Linked DNA regions of Homo sapiens. The protein of the gene in region 1 interacts with the protein of each later gene in a biochemical or structural test. Each region holds a gene or a part of one and is shown on either strand. Other genes may lie near its edges. The genes, in order: IL34 and PTPRZ1.

Evidence for each region.
Region 2: the proteins of IL34 (region 1) and PTPRZ1 form a complex in vitro, tested with the Homo sapiens proteins (one study listed by BioGRID).

What each region holds. Positions count from the first base shown.
Region 1 is NC_000016.10:70,640,058-70,650,578, forward strand, and holds the start of IL34 (interleukin-34 isoform 1 precursor), read left to right. Parts: upstream 1-6,501; 5' UTR 6,502-6,890; coding exon 6,891-6,918; intron 6,919-10,521. UniProt on the Homo sapiens protein: Cytokine that promotes the proliferation, survival and differentiation of monocytes and macrophages. Promotes the release of pro-inflammatory chemokines, and thereby plays an important role in innate immunity and in inflammatory processes.
Region 2 is NC_000007.14:122,007,317-122,017,401, forward strand, and holds part of PTPRZ1 (receptor-type tyrosine-protein phosphatase zeta isoform 1 precursor), read left to right. Parts: intron 1-3,017; coding exon 3,018-6,573; intron 6,574-10,085. UniProt on the Homo sapiens protein: Protein tyrosine phosphatase that negatively regulates oligodendrocyte precursor proliferation in the embryonic spinal cord. Required for normal differentiation of the precursor cells into mature, fully myelinating oligodendrocytes.

The DNA.
Region 1 (10,521 bases):
AGAAAGAATAAATTTAATAGTTTACTATCATGATCAAGTATTAGGTACTGTACATAATTGTATGTGCTAGACTTTTTGTTTTGTTTTCTTTTGTTTTGCTTTGAGACAGGGTCTCACTCTATCACCCAGGCTGGAGTGCAGTGGTGCCATCGTGGCTCACTGCAGCCTTGGCCTCCTGGGCTCAAGCAATCATCCTGCCTTAGCCTTCTGAGTACCTGGGACTACAGGTGCACACCACCATGCCCGGCTAATTTTGTATTTTTTATTTTTGTAGGGACAGCCTCTTGCTATATTACCTTGTGTCAACTGTAATCACAGCACTTTGGGAGGCCGAGGTGGGTGGATCACATGAGGCCAGGAGATCAAGAGCAGCCTGGCCAACAAGATGAAACCCTGTCTCTACTAAAAATACAAAAGTTAGCCGGGTGTGGTGGTGCATGCCTGTAATCCCAGCTACTTGGGACGCTGAGGCAGGAGAATCTCTTGAACCCGGGAGGTGGAGGTTGTAGTGAGCCGAGATCTTGCCACTGCACTCCAGCCAGGGCGACAGAGCAAGACTCCGTCTCAATAAAAAAAAAAAAAAAAGTTAGTTTTTAAATATATATATTTCAATCAATTAAAGTTATTTTTAAGTCAGGCCTTTTGCAGTATAGTTGATGTATGGTAAAGCTCATCCTCTTTAAGCATACGGTTGGATAAATTTCAACAAATAATATACCAACGCTTCATTCAGGGTTTAAAGCATTTCCTTCACCTCCCAAAATTCCCCTGCGCCCCTTCTCAGTCAATCCCCTTCCCCACTCCCCATTTTGGGATGTCACCGATATAATTTCTGTCCCTGGAGTTTTGCTTTTTCCAGAAAAGGCTGAATGTACATACAGGGTATATAGGTATATACTCCTAGGTATATACTCAAGAGAATTGAAAGTGTTGCCTGGGCGTGGTGGCTCACACCTGTAATCCCAGCACGTTGGGAGGCCGAGGCAGGCAGATCACTTGAGGTCAGAAATTTGAGACCAGCCTGGCCAACATGGTGAAATCCTGTCTCTACTAAACATACAAAAAAATCAGCCGGAAGTGGTGGTGCACGCCTGTAATCATAGCTGCTTGGGAGGCTAAGCAGGGGAATCACTTGGACCTGGGAGGCAGAGGTTGCAGTGAGCTGAGATCACACCACTGCACTCCAGCTTGGGCAACAGAGCGAGACTTCATCTCAAAACAACAACAAGAAAATGTTATGCCTACACAAAAACTTGCACATGGATTTTCATAGCCATATTATTCATAATGGCCAAAAGGTGGAAACAGCCCAAAAGTTCACCAACCAAGGGCACTGTATACTTAAAGAAGGTGAGCTTCACTGTCCATCAATTACACCTCAATAAGCCTGACTTTAAAGTAACTTCAATGGATTGAAATACATAAATTAAAAAAATTCTTTCCCTCCCTCTCTCCCTCCCTCCCTTCCTCCCTCCCTCCCTTCCTTCCTTCCTTCCTGCCTTTCTTTCTTTTTTTTTTTACTTTTTGAGATGGAATCTCACTCTGTTGCCAAGGCTGGAGTGCAGTGGCATGATCATGGCCTGTTGCTGCCTCCACCTCCCCAGATTCAAGTGATCTTCCCACCTTAGCCTCCCTAGCAGCTGGGAGTACAGGTGCATGCCTCCTTGTCCGGCTAATTTTTGTATTTTTTGTAGAGACAGGGTTTTGCTGTGTTGCCCAGGCTGGTCTTGAACTCCTGGGCTCAAGCAATCCACCCCCCCGCAACCTCCCAAAGTGTTGGAATTATAGGCATGAGCCACTGCGCCTGGCCAAAATTAATAATTTCAAAATGACACTAAAAATCCTCATTAGTTATTTTGGAGGAAGCCAGAAAACAATACAATCTGAAATGGACAAAGAAAATGTGGGATATTCATGCAAGGGAGCATTATTTGACAATAAAAAGAGTAAAGTACGGATACATGCTGTGTCTTAGTTTACCTGGCCTTCCATAAAAAAATACCATAGACCGGGTGGCTTAAACAACAGAAATCTGTTTTCTCACCATTCTCTGGGCTGGAACTTTGAGATCAGGGCACCAGCATGATTGATTTCCGGTGAGGGCTCTTCCCTTGGGTTGCAGATGGCCACCTTCTCACTATGTACTCACATGACCAGTTCTTTGTGTGAGTATGGGAAGAGACAGAGAGAGAGAGAGACAAAGACAGAGACAGAGAGAGTGAGCGTACTCTGATGTCTTTTTTTTTTTTTTTTTTTTTGAGACGGAGTCTCACTCTGTTACCCAGGCTGGAGTGCAGTGGCATGATCTCGGCTCACTGCAAACTTTGCCCTCTGAGTTCAAGCGATTCTCCTGCCTCAGCCTCCTGAGTAGCTGGGATTACAGGCACCTGCCACTGCGCCCGCCTAATTTTTGTATTTTTAGTGGAGACGGTGTTTCACCATGTTGGTCAGGCTTGTCTTGAACTCCTTACCTTGTGATCCTCCCGCCTTGGGCTCCCAAAGTGCTGGGATTACAGGCGTGAGCCACTGAGCCCGGCCTGATTTCTTTTCTTATAAAGGCATTATCCCACCATAAGGACCCCATCCTTGTGACCTCATCCAAACCTAATTATCTCCCAAGGCCTCATCTCCAGGAACCACCACATTAGGGGTTACAACTTCAACACATGTATTTTGGAGAGACACAAACATTCAGTTCATAACATGCTACAAAATGAATGAACCCTGAAAACATGCTAAGTGAAAGAAGCCAGACATGAAAGGTCCCGTATTGCATAATCAATCCCATTTATATGAAATGTCCAGAATAGGCAAATCCATAGAGACAGAAAGAATATTAGTGGCTGCCAGGGGCTGGGAGGAAGAGGGAATAGGGGGTGACTGCTAATGAGTTCAGAGTTTATTTTGGGGGTGATGAAAATGTTCTGTAATTAAATAATGGTGACTGTTGCACAACTTAGTACACTAAAAACCCACAAAGTTGTACACTTTATTATTTATTTTTATTTATTTTTATTTATTTTTGAGACGGATCTCACTCTGTCACCCAGGCTGGAGTGCAGTGGGACTACCTCGGCTCACTGCAACCTCTGCCTCCCGGGTTCAAGTGATTCTCCTGCCTCAGCCTCCTGAGTAGCTGGGATTACAGGTGCGCACCACCGTGCCTGGCTAATCTTTTGTATGTTTAGTAGAGATAGGGTTTTGCCATATTGGCCAGGCTGGTCTCGAATCCCTGACCTCAGGTGATCCACCTGCCTTGGCCTCCCAAACTGCAGGGATGACAGGAGTGAGCCACTGCACCTGGCTGTTGCACACTTTATTTATTTATTTTGAGACAGGGTCTTGCTTTGTCACCCATGCTGGAGTGCAGTGGCGTGATCATGGTTCACTGCAGCCTTGACCTCCCTGGCTCAAGTGATCCTCCCATCTCAGCCTCCCAAGTAGCTGGGACCACAGGCCCGTGCCACTACACCCACCTAATTAAAAAAATTTTTGTTGGTAGATACGGGTTCTCACTATGTTGCCCGGGCTGGTCTCAAAGCCCTGGGCTGAAGCGATCCCCCGGCCTTGGCCTCCCAAGGTGCTGGGATTACAAGTGTGAGCCATCACACGCAGCCTGTACACTTTAAAATGGTAAATTTTATGGCATGCAAATTATATATTGATTTTTAAAAAGAAAAAAGACTTAAGATGCACATCAGAGATTTAAAAAATAACCAGGGAAAATTGAACGTGGATTCTATATGAAATCATATTAAAGAGTTATTAATTTGAGGGTTGTGTGATGACAATATTGTGATTATATATTTTAAAAATCCCTACATGCTGGTGAAATGGCATGTTTGAGATTTGCTTTAAAATATTCCTGGAAAAAAAAATTGGGGGATGAGTGAAGCTGGAATGACAGAAGAGTGATCATTTTTTTCTTTTGTTTTGAGACAGAATCTCGCTCTGTTGCCCCGACTGGAGGGCAGTGGAGCAATCTTGGCTCACTGCAACCTCCGCCTCCTGGGTTCCAGTGATTCTGCTGCCTCAGCCTCCTGAGTAGCTGGGATTACAGGCATGCACCACCACACCTGGCTAATTTTTGTATTTTTAGTAGAGACAGGGTTTCACCATGTTGGCCAGGCTGGTCTCAAAGTCCTGACCTTTTATGGACAACTCTGTGGAAATAACTTTTTTGTTTTTCTATTGGTATTTGAAGTTGTTTTTTCCCCTTCTCCTTGGAGTTTATTCTGCCTCAACTGATTCACCCGCCTCGGCCTCCCAAAGTGCTGGGATTACAGGTGTGAGACACTGCACCCAGCCAGATTGACAATTTTTGAATCTGAGTAACTGCTATATGGGGGTCTGTTATACTATTCTACCTTGTTTCAGTTTGTTTAGACAACTTCCACTATAAAGGAATGAATTTTTTGGGTAGATGGAAATGTTTTGTATCTTGATTATTATAGTAATTACACAGCTCTATAAATGTGCTAAAAACTTTTAGAAATGTATACTGAAAAGGGTAAAATGTAGTATATGTAAATTAGCCCTCAATAAACCTGAAAAAAATCCCCAAACTAATGACAACTAAATGTTCTAGATACGTTAGTGTTTGTAGTGATGCTGTAACAGCAGGGGAATTGCCAGGGTGAGGAGGAGGAGGAGGGGGAGGAGGAGGGGGAGGGGGAAGAGGAAGAGGAGGAGGGAGGAGGGAGGAAAAGGAGGAGGGAGGAGGGAGGAAAAGGAGGAGGGAGGAGGAATGAAAAGGAGGAAGGGAGGAGGAAGGAGGAAGAGGAAGGAGGGAAGAGGAGGAAGAGGAGGAAGTAGGAAGAGGAAGGAGGTGGAAGAGGAAGGAGGAAGAGGAGGGAGGAGAAGGAGGAGGAAGGAGGAAGAGGAGGAAGGAGGAAGAGGAGGAGGAAGGAGGAAGAGAAAGGGAGTAGGAGGAAGGAGGAAGAAGAGGAAGAGGAGGAAGGAGGAGAAGGAAAAAGGAAGGAGGACGAGGAAGGAGGAAGAGAAGGAAGGAGAAAGGAAGAGGGAAGAGTAGGAAGGAGGAGGGGGAAAGAGGAGGAAGAAGAGGGAGGAAGGAGGAAGACGAGGAAGGAGGAGGAGGAAGAGAAGGAGGAAGAGGAAGGAGGAAAAGGAGGAAGGACAAGGAAAAGAGGAGCAGCAGCAGGCAGCGACTGGGGCTGAGATTCAGGGTGACTGCATAAGGGATTAACTTGAACAACCCGTGTTCTCTCTATAAGGCCCTGCCTGCCTGCTGGGCACCTCTTAGGGTAAGGGCCAGCATTCTTTGGTGACACCATGGATCACACAATGAAGAAGATGCCCAAGTCATACCTGCTCTCCCCCGATGGTGTCACTCTGTAGCCATTTTCCCCCACCAGAGGGGAGACAGGGAGGAGGCGAGGGGATGGAAGAGAACTAAATCAGAGACGGAATTCCAGCCTGATCTGCAGAGCAGACACAATGGTCCAGACCTTGCAGAGTCCAGAGGGGCAGATGGGAGGACCACGCACACACGCTGAGCCCTGTGTGGTTGTCGAATTTTGGGAGCAGCCACCAGCCCACAGGGTTTGAATTCCTGTCACACTTCTTACAAGCCGTATGACCTTGGACAAGTGTCTTAACCTTTCTGGGCCTCAGTTTCCTCATTGATAAACTGAGATTTTGCACTTCCATGAGATTGTTGTGAGAGATTCAGTGAATGTAAAGACCTTAGTCCTGGCCGGGTGCGGTGGCTCACGCCTGTAATCCCAGCACTTTGGGAGGCCAAGACAGCAGATCACTTGAGTCCAGGAGTTTGAGACTAGCCTGGCCAACATGGTGAAACCCCATCTCTACTAAAAATACAAAAATTAGCCAGGCATGGTAGTGCACATCTGTAATCCCAGCTACTTGGGAGGCTGAAGCAGGAGAATTGCTTGAACCCTGGAGGTGGAGGCTGCAGTGAGCCAAAATCACGCCACTGCACTACAGCCTGGATGACAGAGTCTGAGACTCCGTCTCAAAAAAATTTTTTTTTTCTTAATTTTTTTTTTATTAATAGAACTGAGGTCTTACTATGCTGACCAGGCTGGTCTCGAACTCCTGGGCTCACGCAATCCTCCCACCTTGGCCTCCCAAAGTGCTGGGATTACAAGCATGAGCCATTGCGTCCGGCTTGTTTTCGGAGTGGGAGCTCGTCTGCTTTTTTAACCTGTCCTTTAGCCTGAGTCATTCATGGACTCTACCATGGCTCTCGATGTGTGAACTCAAACCACCTGTTCATTCCTTGGTCCTGCTTTTGTTCAGGCCCCAGGCTGCCAGCTGGTGTCATCATAACTCACTCATGGGCCAGGGCCGTTCGGACATCCTGAAGTCATTTCTCACGTGAGCCGTGTCCAGCTGCCAGGGCCGGGTGGTCCTGTGCAGGCCGTGGGTGCGGTGTGCGCTGTGGCTGATGGCTGAGTGGCAGCGCTGCTCTTACATAATCAGTTTCTCTCCTCCTTTCTCTTCCTAGAGCCAGATTTCACACTGAGCAGCTGCAGTCGGAGAAATCAGAGAAAGCGTCACCCAGCCCCAGATTCCGAGGGGCCTGCCAGGGACTCTCTCCTCCTGCTCCTTGGAAAGGAAGACCCCGAAAGACCCCCAAGCCACCGGCTCAGACCTGCTTCTGGGCTGCCATGGGACTTGCGGCCACCGCCCCCCGGCTGTCCTCCACGCTGCCGGGCAGATAAGGGCAGCTGCTGCCCTTGGGGCACCTGCTCACTCCCGCAGCCCAGCCACTCCTCCAGGGCCAGCCCTTCCCTGACTGAGTGACCACCTCTGCTGCCCCGAGGCCATGTAGGCCGTGCTTAGGCCTCTGTGGACACACTGCTGGGGACGGCGCCTGAGCTCTCAGGGGGACGAGGAACACCACCATGCCCCGGGGCTTCACCTGGCTGCGCTGTGAGTACTGGGGGGTCCCTAGGGACCTGCATTGGGAGGCCTTGGCCTAGATCCAGGATCTGCCGTAACCATAGCAACCAGGGCATTCTTGCTGGTGAGAAGTTGCGATGCTTCCCAGCCGGACTGCAGACACCCTCTGAGATTCCCACGGCCGCCGTCTGCCCTGTCTGCCGCTCACTTCGGGCTCCGACGGGCAAGCTGGGTGGGCAGTTCTGGCTGGGTGGGCATGGTCCTCAGGGTGGTCTTAGGTCGGGGCAGGCACTGGGGGTAGGTGGCAGCATCTCACCTTTCCAGGCTTGTGGGTGTTGGGGAGCCCCGGGCGGGCAGCAGCGGCCCAGTCCTGGGTATGGCCGGTGGAGGGGGGCAGGGGCTGGTGAAAGTGTCTAGGGACCCAAGACCCACGGCAGAAGAGCAGCCAGATGCCTGGAGAAGGCAGCCTGTTCCCCTCCAACCCTCCCTCCATAACAGAACAGAATTAAAAAGCAGAAAGATAACACTGTTGGTAAAAAGAAAAATAAGTTGAAATGAGGACAGAAAGGAAAAAAAGGATCTGGAAGCCTCTTATGCCTGCTGGCTGGGAGGCCAGACCAAGATCCCCTCAGTCTCCAAGATCCAGTTCAATTGACTCAAATTCAACACATTTTTCCGGTGCCTCCCACGTGCCCACTGCAGAGTCACTGCCATGACAACAAGGACCTTGCTGTCTCGTGCCTCTGTCTCCAACGCCTGGCACAGGGTTGAGTGCTCAGGAACTGTTGGAGGTTTGGGGTATGAGCCTGCGAGGGATTGAAAGAAGAGTTGGGTCCACCCTGGCCCTTGTGGAAATATACAACAAAGGGTTGGGACATTAAGGATGGGTGGAAGGACCCAGCTGGACCCAATGTTCTGGAAACCCCTAGGTCATGAGAAGCAGGGGTGCAGCATGGGGGAGGGGCTACTGGAAATGGTCTAGAAGGTGGGGTGGTGGTCACACAGGTAGACCTGGGGTCATGAGGCCCATGTTCCAGGAAGAGGGGCCAGTGTGAGCAAAGGTTTGGCGGTGGGATGGTGAGGCCAGGCTGGGAGCTGGTTTGGACCCGGCTGGCTGAGGCCTTGAGAGCCAAGCAAAGTGTGCCTCCCTCCCCATAGCAGGCAGCCCTGGAGGATTTGAGAGCCCGGCGGGGGTGGAATCGTGATTGGGAGTTCCTCTGCTCTTGAAGATCAGTCTGGTGGTGTTTGTAGGAGTTACTGCTGTCACCGTCTGTGCAGGAGGGAATGAGGGTCATTCTGGAGGTGGAGGTGCGAATGAAAGGCAAGGGATGCTGGGCTGGTGGCTCACGCCCGTGATCCCAGCACTGTGGGAGGCCAAGGCAGGAGGACGGCTTGAGGCCAGGAGTTTGAAACCAGGCTGGGCAGCATAGCGAGACTCCATCTCTAAAAAAAGGAAAATTAGCCAGGTGTGGTGGCATACATCTGTAATCCCAGCTACTCAGGAGGCTGAGGTGGGAGGATCACTTGAGCCCAGGAGGTTGAGGCTGCAGTAGCAAGGATCGCATCACTGCACTGCAGCCTGGGCAACAGGGTGAGACCCTGTCTTTAAAAAAAAAAAAAAAAAAAAAAAGGAGAAAAGAAAAAGAGAGAAAGAAAAGCAAGGGAGAGGGGAAAAAGCTCCAGGAGGGGTGGGTCTTAGGACCAGGCAAAGACTGGCTGGGGGATGAGGGAGAGGGAGAGCAGCAGATTGAGGTGGGGGCTGGTGCCCAGGGGCTGGGGTGCTGAGGAAGTTGGGCTGCCATAACCAATTAGAAAGCTTCGGGTGGCTTAGAGCAACAGGAATGTGTCGTCTCACAGTTCTGGAGACCGGAAGTGTGAGATCAGGGTGCCTGCAGGGCTGCGTTCCCTCTAAAGGTGCCGAGAAGGAGCCTCCCTTGCCTCTTCCAGCTCCTGGTGGCTCCTGGCTTCCTTGGCTTGTGGCCTAGTCACTCAGATCTCCCTTTGTCTTTGCGTGGCCTTTCCCTTTGTGTGTCTCTATGTCCTCTCCTCTTCTTCCTAGGACACTAGTCACTGGATTTAGGGAACTGCCTAAATCCAGGATGGCCTAATCTTGACATCCTTCATTTAATAATGCCTGTAAGTGGCACAGGACAGGCGAGCCCCCAAGGGGGCTTAGCCTGCGAGGGTTCTTGGCTTTCCCTAGGAGAGAATTCAAGGCAAGCTGGTGGTAGAAGAAAACAGCTTTACTGAAGAGATGTTATAGCTCTGTGCCAGCTCCTGCAGAGCAGGGCTGTGCCAGAGGAAGCGTACTGAGGAGCAGCTCGGGGCCTTTTGCAGTCATATTTATACCCACCTTTAATTGCATGCAGATTAAGGGGCAGTTTATGCAGACATTTCTAGGGAAGGGGTAGTAACTTTTGGGACATTGGGTCATTGCTATGGAAAGCGGTGGTAACTCCCAGGCGTTGCCATGGCAATGGTAAACTGACATGGCACACTGCTGAGCATGTCTTTTGGAATGCTGCTTCTGCCCCGTCCACCCCTGTTTTCACTAGTCCTCAGTTTGGTCCAGTGTCAGGGCTCTGCCTCTGGAGTCGGTCCTACCTCCTACTTCACAAAGACCCCATTTCCAAACAAGGTCACACTCGGGTTCGGGTGAATGTGGATTTGGAGGAGATGCTATTTAACCCACTGCACAGGTTCAGATTTGGTCCCCGGGGCTGGGGGTGACAAGCCTCACTTGTCACTGCACATAGGGTCAACCCAGGGCCAGGGAACCAGGAAGGGAGTACCGTACTCACACAGATCTTTCTTAAGCCTCCTCTCTGTCTTGCAGGTTGTTTTATTATTTTATTTTTATTTTTATTTTTTGAGACGGAGTCTCACTCTGTCACCCAGGCTGGAGTGCTGCGGCACGATCTCAGCTCACTGCATCCTCTGCCTCTTGGGTTCAGATGATTCTTGTGTCTCAGCCTCCCGAGTAGCTGGGACTACAGGCACCTGCCACTGCGCCTGGCTAATTTTTGTATTTTTAGTAGCGATGGGGTTTCACCATGTTGGCCAGACTGGTCTTGAACTCCTGACCTCAGGTGATCCGCCCACCTCGGCCTTCCAAAGTGCTGGGATTACAGGTGTGAGCCTCCGTGCCCAGCCTGTGTTGTGGGTTCTTACCTCTGGGCTAAGACAAGGGCAGGGTGGGTCTCCTGACCAAGGTCAGGGGTGGCACTGGCTGTGGGGTTCCTGGTGTGCAGAGCATGTGGGGGACAGTGGCCTTGAGGTTGGGGCTGTGCTGTCCCTGCCTGGTCCCTGTTTGTTAACCTGTTTCTCTGGGTGGGTGGAGGCAGCAAAAAAAGAAACTTGCCCTTAGCAATGATGTTTGGGCTGCACTCAGAGGAAGGCTGCCCAGTTGGGGGAGAGGCAGATCATCTGTGGACAGGGTTTCCAGGGCAGCTGTGTGCCCACCGTGTCAGGCTGGGAGGCTCAGTGTCACTCCAAGGCACAGTCCCTGCCTTGAGGCCACAGCTGCCGGGTCCCCAGGGCCCCAGAACGGGACACAGAGAAGGGCAGGTGCTGTAGGGTTGGGAGGTGAAGTAGACGGCCAATGGTGATGGCCACACAGGAAAAAAGACCCAG
Region 2 (10,085 bases), on another chromosome or scaffold:
TTGGCACTGCCAAGGGGGAGGGAACCAGCTACCACCACACAGATGGGGATTTAAAATAAAGGATACAGGAGCAGTGATTGGTAAGCTTGGCTTGGTAAATTGGTAGTAGTTCTTGCTATTGAAATTAACTATTGTATTAATAATATATTGTCAAATCGAAAGAGACCCATGTCACAATATGTCTTCCTGGAGCATGATTATGAGATGGGATGAAAACACTTCTTAACCAATCCACTATTCACTTCCTTTGCTTCATGCAGGAATGAATGACAGGCTGGAAAATGCATGGAATATATTCATAATGACTTTTAATCCCTGAATATAGAAATAAAGAGTTTGAAGGATATTTCTTAGATCCTCTCCAAACAGAAATGTATGACTTTGCAAGACAAAGTATCTGTAGCATGATCATGGCTTTACACTAACTTTTAAAAATGAAGTTGTGAAGGATAACATATGACACAGATCAAAACTACAGTGGAAGAGTCACAATAACTCTATAAAGAAATTGTAGGAAAGAGTATTTGTTAAAATATTTGTAGTCAGATATGAATAAAGTAATCATAGGGTATGAATGATATGTTCTTCTTAAAATGTTGACATAGCCAATGTGACCTTACAGCGATCAACAAGATATGGTAGGGTAGGATTAATGAAGGTCTAATCACCCTCACTGGGTTCTGAGAGGTTCTGAACCTCATAAAGTTTATAGAACGCATATGTATCTGATGTGTGCATAGTTTTTTCCCAACTATGTAATAAGAAGAGGTGTGTAGCATTATGTTACAATAAAAATTTTATGAAAATTTACATTGCTTATAGGAGGATATGATAAAGGATGTTTATGTGGAAATATAAGCAAAGAGAAAGAAATGTAATATTATTGTGGAAGTCAATAGACATTGTTAGATCATATAGAGAAAATGGATGACATATCTTTGGGGAACTTTTGCTGTGAAGGAGAGACGAGAAGTAGAATGATAACTAGAAGGTGAATTAGAGGTTTTCCTTTGTGTTTCCTTTAAATAAGAGAGATCAGAGTTGATTTAAGCTGATGAGAATTATCTGTTTGAGAATTTGAGAAAACAAATCAGAAACACAAAATAGACTGAACTACTCAATTATGTTCAATTCCCAGGTTCATGATAGGGACTAGATCTAAAACACAGAAGTGCGAATTAGCTTTAGAAAGGAAGGAAAACAACTCTTTAGTTATAACAGGACAGGAGGGGCAGAGATAACTTGGTTGGTCCCTGTTTTTATGTTAAGAAGAAGTGTGTCTTTGGTGGCTTCTATTTTCCCTGAAAACAGGAAGGCCATCTGCTGAGAATGGGAGGAAAGGATAGGAAAATGAAGGTTTGACAGAGTTTTGGTAGAGAGAAGGAGTGTGGAGTGATACCAGAAAACTAGGCAAATATTTAGGTTTGCAAAAACAAGGAAGAGTTTAGAAACTCCACACTGCCAAGCTTAACATTGATCCCCAGCAAAACTCTGCATCACATTATAAAACAAATATTTATGAGAACTTCTAAGGAAAGAAGAGATAATTGGCACCAACCAATTTTCCCTAAAAGCAAGTCAAGGCAAATTATTCTCATTTCCTTTTGCATTAAGTTTTTAGGTTTGTAGATTATAGGAATATTTTATTTAGGAAATTATTTGGGAAAATCTCTCAGGTGGTCCTTGTGAACAAGGTATCACACAGAATGTAAAACTTCATAAAGAATACTGACTACTTGTAAGGAAATTTTTCAAGGGAATCTGAGAGAGTAGCCATTTTTAGCACTCAATATAATTCAGATCAAGTGCACTAACTTCCTAAAGTTGTCACTTATGCTTCAGAAGATACTCACGACCAGCCAAATAATTAAGCTGTAAATAATGAGGCAGCCATTAAGCTTGGAATCGTGTGTTTCATACAGTGCAGATTTCCGTGTGTATGACACATGCTCATGAGCACACACAGCTTAAGATTCAGATTCTTTCTACTGATACTGGTCAAGTTCTCAATGGCTGTACTCAGTAATTTTTTTCTTTTAAGGAACATGGCCTTAAAATATCTAATAGATGATCAAATAAATGACAATTCTAACAAGCTGTTGGGTACAAAGATACTGACAAAATCATGTCCCACATGAACTAAAAAAAAAAAAAAAACTTGATAACTTTGGCAATTGAGTTTTCTAAGTATATAATTAGATATAATATACCCAGTTTTATGTATATATACGTATATGTATATATATACATATATTGAATCTTCCATGCAATGAAGATTATGCTTAAAGCATAGGTCTTGGTTAACTTCTAGCTAGAAGACTAGACGTCTCCTCCTGGGTCATTGCATGGAAGATTCAGCCTCCTGAATGGTGATTCTAAGGGAAACACAAAATTAAAAAACTAGGAGTAGAATCATATATTGACAAGTTGCCTTTGAAATATCTGCCTAAGTCTTAAGTGGAAAATATTAAAAAACAAAAGGAAAAGAAAACCAAACACCTCTTTTAGTTCTAAATCTTCCCCTTATTATGACCTTAAAATTATGATTTGCTCTAAATAGATATAATTAAATATTCTGAATGTTCAACTACTTTGGTCTTTAAAATAGTTTCATCGCCAATTCTTATTACAATAAGCTAATGGCTATTTACCTTGATGCCTGATGAACAAAGAAATATAAAAACAATAAAATAAATGCCATGTTAAATAACACTGTCAATAAATAACTACAGTGTGTCTTCCTTTTAAATATGTGGTATCTATTCATTTAACCACTTCTTTCCATAGCATTAAAATAAAGGCGGCCATAAATTAGGTGTTTTCATTACGTTTAATTACTCCCCTGTAGAGCGGATGGTAAAGGTTGTAGGTTAGAGGTATGCATTGTACAGAATGGTGTTTTATGAGGATGAGAAGTTCCCAAGATACCACAAGTGATGATTGGCAGTGTAAGATATGAAGATTTTCTTTTTCTCTTATTTCCTTATGACTCATTAAATCTTGTTTGCTTTTCAAAGGAGGAGGAAGAGGGAAAAGACATTGAAGAAGGCGCTATTGTGAATCCTGGTAGAGACAGTGCTACAAACCAAATCAGGAAAAAGGAACCCCAGATTTCTACCACAACACACTACAATCGCATAGGGACGAAATACAATGAAGCCAAGACTAACCGATCCCCAACAAGAGGAAGTGAATTCTCTGGAAAGGGTGATGTTCCCAATACATCTTTAAATTCCACTTCCCAACCAGTCACTAAATTAGCCACAGAAAAAGATATTTCCTTGACTTCTCAGACTGTGACTGAACTGCCACCTCACACTGTGGAAGGTACTTCAGCCTCTTTAAATGATGGCTCTAAAACTGTTCTTAGATCTCCACATATGAACTTGTCGGGGACTGCAGAATCCTTAAATACAGTTTCTATAACAGAATATGAGGAGGAGAGTTTATTGACCAGTTTCAAGCTTGATACTGGAGCTGAAGATTCTTCAGGCTCCAGTCCCGCAACTTCTGCTATCCCATTCATCTCTGAGAACATATCCCAAGGGTATATATTTTCCTCCGAAAACCCAGAGACAATAACATATGATGTCCTTATACCAGAATCTGCTAGAAATGCTTCCGAAGATTCAACTTCATCAGGTTCAGAAGAATCACTAAAGGATCCTTCTATGGAGGGAAATGTGTGGTTTCCTAGCTCTACAGACATAACAGCACAGCCCGATGTTGGATCAGGCAGAGAGAGCTTTCTCCAGACTAATTACACTGAGATACGTGTTGATGAATCTGAGAAGACAACCAAGTCCTTTTCTGCAGGCCCAGTGATGTCACAGGGTCCCTCAGTTACAGATCTGGAAATGCCACATTATTCTACCTTTGCCTACTTCCCAACTGAGGTAACACCTCATGCTTTTACCCCATCCTCCAGACAACAGGATTTGGTCTCCACGGTCAACGTGGTATACTCGCAGACAACCCAACCGGTATACAATGGTGAGACACCTCTTCAACCTTCCTACAGTAGTGAAGTCTTTCCTCTAGTCACCCCTTTGTTGCTTGACAATCAGATCCTCAACACTACCCCTGCTGCTTCAAGTAGTGATTCGGCCTTGCATGCTACGCCTGTATTTCCCAGTGTCGATGTGTCATTTGAATCCATCCTGTCTTCCTATGATGGTGCACCTTTGCTTCCATTTTCCTCTGCTTCCTTCAGTAGTGAATTGTTTCGCCATCTGCATACAGTTTCTCAAATCCTTCCACAAGTTACTTCAGCTACCGAGAGTGATAAGGTGCCCTTGCATGCTTCTCTGCCAGTGGCTGGGGGTGATTTGCTATTAGAGCCCAGCCTTGCTCAGTATTCTGATGTGCTGTCCACTACTCATGCTGCTTCAGAGACGCTGGAATTTGGTAGTGAATCTGGTGTTCTTTATAAAACGCTTATGTTTTCTCAAGTTGAACCACCCAGCAGTGATGCCATGATGCATGCACGTTCTTCAGGGCCTGAACCTTCTTATGCCTTGTCTGATAATGAGGGCTCCCAACACATCTTCACTGTTTCTTACAGTTCTGCAATACCTGTGCATGATTCTGTGGGTGTAACTTATCAGGGTTCCTTATTTAGCGGCCCTAGCCATATACCAATACCTAAGTCTTCGTTAATAACCCCAACTGCATCATTACTGCAGCCTACTCATGCCCTCTCTGGTGATGGGGAATGGTCTGGAGCCTCTTCTGATAGTGAATTTCTTTTACCTGACACAGATGGGCTGACAGCCCTTAACATTTCTTCACCTGTTTCTGTAGCTGAATTTACATATACAACATCTGTGTTTGGTGATGATAATAAGGCGCTTTCTAAAAGTGAAATAATATATGGAAATGAGACTGAACTGCAAATTCCTTCTTTCAATGAGATGGTTTACCCTTCTGAAAGCACAGTCATGCCCAACATGTATGATAATGTAAATAAGTTGAATGCGTCTTTACAAGAAACCTCTGTTTCCATTTCTAGCACCAAGGGCATGTTTCCAGGGTCCCTTGCTCATACCACCACTAAGGTTTTTGATCATGAGATTAGTCAAGTTCCAGAAAATAACTTTTCAGTTCAACCTACACATACTGTCTCTCAAGCATCTGGTGACACTTCGCTTAAACCTGTGCTTAGTGCAAACTCAGAGCCAGCATCCTCTGACCCTGCTTCTAGTGAAATGTTATCTCCTTCAACTCAGCTCTTATTTTATGAGACCTCAGCTTCTTTTAGTACTGAAGTATTGCTACAACCTTCCTTTCAGGCTTCTGATGTTGACACCTTGCTTAAAACTGTTCTTCCAGCTGTGCCCAGTGATCCAATATTGGTTGAAACCCCCAAAGTTGATAAAATTAGTTCTACAATGTTGCATCTCATTGTATCAAATTCTGCTTCAAGTGAAAACATGCTGCACTCTACATCTGTACCAGTTTTTGATGTGTCGCCTACTTCTCATATGCACTCTGCTTCACTTCAAGGTTTGACCATTTCCTATGCAAGTGAGAAATATGAACCAGTTTTGTTAAAAAGTGAAAGTTCCCACCAAGTGGTACCTTCTTTGTACAGTAATGATGAGTTGTTCCAAACGGCCAATTTGGAGATTAACCAGGCCCATCCCCCAAAAGGAAGGCATGTATTTGCTACACCTGTTTTATCAATTGATGAACCATTAAATACACTAATAAATAAGCTTATACATTCCGATGAAATTTTAACCTCCACCAAAAGTTCTGTTACTGGTAAGGTATTTGCTGGTATTCCAACAGTTGCTTCTGATACATTTGTATCTACTGATCATTCTGTTCCTATAGGAAATGGGCATGTTGCCATTACAGCTGTTTCTCCCCACAGAGATGGTTCTGTAACCTCAACAAAGTTGCTGTTTCCTTCTAAGGCAACTTCTGAGCTGAGTCATAGTGCCAAATCTGATGCCGGTTTAGTGGGTGGTGGTGAAGATGGTGACACTGATGATGATGGTGATGATGATGATGATGACAGAGGTAGTGATGGCTTATCCATTCATAAGTGTATGTCATGCTCATCCTATAGAGAATCACAGGAAAAGGTAATGAATGATTCAGACACCCACGAAAACAGTCTTATGGATCAGAATAATCCAATCTCATACTCACTATCTGAGAATTCTGAAGAAGATAATAGAGTCACAAGTGTATCCTCAGACAGTCAAACTGGTATGGACAGAAGTCCTGGTAAATCACCATCAGCAAATGGGCTATCCCAAAAGCACAATGATGGAAAAGAGGAAAATGACATTCAGACTGGTAGTGCTCTGCTTCCTCTCAGCCCTGAATCTAAAGCATGGGCAGTTCTGACAAGTGATGAAGAAAGTGGATCAGGGCAAGGTACCTCAGATAGCCTTAATGAGAATGAGACTTCCACAGATTTCAGTTTTGCAGACACTAATGAAAAAGATGCTGATGGGATCCTGGCAGCAGGTGACTCAGAAATAACTCCTGGATTCCCACAGTCCCCAACATCATCTGTTACTAGCGAGAACTCAGAAGTGTTCCACGTTTCAGAGGCAGGTTAGTTACGGATCAGAAGGACAGATTGAGGTGTGGTGGTTTGCTTGCTCTAAAAGTAAAATGAAAATTATAGAAAGATAGAAATTTGGTAAAATGGTACATCATCATTTTTAAAATCAAAACATTCAACAAATCAGTCTCCAGTTTCTGAAGTATAATTTTATTTATTATTTCAAACAATTATTTAACACATTTTGGTTTTTAATTTAATTCTCTCCAAAATAGACAAAACAATTTTTATTTATTGTCAATATTTCATACTCTACAGGATGTCTTTTATGGGTGGGGGCAATTCTGTTTGCATAATACATTTTTAGTACACTGCTTTTAAAGCAAGATCAGAGTATGCTATTTTAGATGATTTTAATTTTCATACTTTTGTTCTAAAATAAGTTGTAAACTAATTCTATTTAATTATAAAATGAATTATTAAATCTGAGAGTAATGTGACATAAGCACTTCTCTCTGACACACCCCTGTAGAAAGGAATTAGTTAATTTCCACATTCATATCAGCTTGGGGAGCTTTATTTATTATTATTATTTAATTAATTAATTAATTAATTTTGAGACGGAGTCTCGCTCTGTCGCCCAGGCTGGAGTGCAGTGGTGCAATCTCGGCTTACTACAAGCTCCGCCTCCCAGGTTCACGCCATTCTCCTGCCTCAGCCTCCCGAGTAGCTGAGACTACAGGCGCCCACCACCACGCCAGGCTAATTTTGTGTATTTTTAGTAAAGACGGGGTTTCACCATGTTAGCCAGGATGGTCTTGATCTCCTGACCTCGTGATCCACCCGCCTCGGCCTCCCAAAATGTTGGGATTACAGGCGTGAGCCACTGCACCAGGCCAGGGAGGTATTTATGTATTTATTTATTTATTTAGTTTTATTACTAAGTTTTGAGAGTTAATAATGAAGTTAAAAAAAATTTTAATTTTTTTGTCTTTCTTTATCTTAATGTTGCCTAAAGAGGGCAGTGTAAACCATCAAAATACATTTTACTTTATGCCTGCTGTTACACACTTTTTTAAGTTAAATAATGGGCATTAATATGTACAGTATGTATAGGTATTGTATCACAAGATGTAAAACACTAAACATTTTTCTGTAGAAATGAATTTCATTTGTGAATGTATTTTATGCAAATTAGCTTACTGACCAGATGTTTCTTAGAGCAGATTATGTGCAGTGTTTATAATACAGATGTCTGCTTTAAATGCCAATGGAAAGAAGAGGGAAGTTCAATCCTATTAAGTATAGAAAAGTAATACTTTCATTGAATTGGTCATAAGAATTTTATAATTTGCTTTTATTAAATGTGAACGTATCTTAAAGTTTAATAATGAAACTATTTAAATCTTAACATCAAGTTAAATGATAGGCTAATGTAACAAAATGCACTCATTGTATAAAAGTGAATATTTGTAATCCAGAACATAGACATCAGTCTCATTAGAATATTTTTCCTCTTTGCGATTTCATCTTTTTAATTAGTTGTATATTTTTTCTTCAGTGCAGCAGCAATTAAAAGTTTGTACATTTTGATAGAAAACTTTTTCTGTATTCTGAATTGATACCTATTTAACATTGCATTTTAAACACTTAAATGCTGATATGTGAGAATGAATAATGAATCCATAGGTCACTATAGTCATTAGTGCTGTCATATATATGAACTGTTATCTGTTCTCAATTATAGTAGCTGCTTTTTAGTTTTCATTAGATTTATGTTAAAAGAAAATATCAGGAATCCATCTATCTGTCTTACCAGGTAGTGACATTGATACGTTCTTGCTAGACTATGCTATTATAGAAGGATATATATAATGAGATGCTAAACCTAAAATTATTGACTAAAGCTTAGCAAATTTCTCTTCAGTGCACTAATTAGTTTTATTTAATTATCAAGAGTGTGTTCTCCCACTAATTAGGATAAAACAATATGAATATGACATCCAACATTATCAAGTAACATAATTAGTGAAGTAAATAAGATCAAACAAGATTAGGGGAAAATTCTGGCCTATTTTTAAAACTGTATCTATAAAATCATATGTAATCTGTCTTATCCAATAATTGAATATATCCCTTTATCAAATGCATGCAGACTAGCTCTGAAACTTAAGATTTTATGGTGTATTTCTAGAATGCAGAACAATTTACAGGATGTGTTCTTTAAAATACTATAGATAAGGCAAATATTAGTATCCACAATTTATAAATGAGTACACTGACACCCAAAGATACTAGATTATTTGATCCAGGTCACATGAGTAAATACAAAACTGAGCCTGGAAATGTCTATCTCTTAAAGATTATGCTTTCATGTTAGGGGCCAATTAAATAAATGTAATGCTTAAATTGTAATACCAAAATTATACTATCTTATTCTCAAAACATCTTTTAAAATGTTAATCTTAGTTTTTTATTTCTTAATTACCTATTAATTAAATATTTTAATTTAGGTAACTCATATATACTACTGAGCCATCTCAAGGAGATATTTTAGTCTCAAATAAATAAAAATAAAATCAGTAAAATTAATTCCTCATTATAGTACACAAAGCAACCAACTGATTGTCTGTGCTTTCATAAGATATCCTATTTTGTGTAAAAGAGCTAGGTTTCATGCCATAGTTTGATCATTCTGACTCCTTAATTAAAGGATTTAAGATCAAATATCCCAGAGCACTTTTGAGAAAAGTTTATACACAAGACTATATGTGTGTGCATGTGTGTATACAGTGTCTGTATATAAATATGTGTATATGGTATATTTACATATATAATGCATTATATATCTTACATATATGACATATATGATAGGACATATCTCATATATATGTATGCTATACATATATAAATGAAATATGTAATTATATATATATATACCCATATACATGTTGCTTTGAAAATTTGTGGCTATTGAAGACCTGCATAATTATATAAGCTTACTTCGTACATATATTAATCTACATCACTGGTTCTCAAACTTTAACATAGATCAAAATCAACTGGAGGACTCGTCAAAACACAAATTGCTGACCCTTACACACAGAGTTTCTGGTTCAGAAGATTTTGTATGGTTTGAGCGAAGCCTAAAATTTGCATTTCTAAGTTATGATGATGTTGATGCTGCTATTCTGGGGATCAAACGTCAAGAAAATCTGATATAGATAATAATATTAACCACCATTTGTACTAAATGAGGTACCAAGGACTTTGCTAAGTGAATGTTTTCATTTATTACTGACACACTTACTTTCCATCTAGGTAACAATAGTTACAATAGAAAAAACTGTGAAGACAACCATGTATAAAATAAGATGTTTTTCTAAATTTTATAAGGAAATGCTCATTGCATTCACCATCAGGTTATTTAGGTGACTAGATGATTCTAAATGAGTCTCCACAAAATAATGGCCAGAGCTTAGGATTAACATTTTAAAAAATGGAGTCTTGGGCTTTTCTCACAAGAATATTAGCTACAACTCAGGGCTGAGTTGGCTTAGAA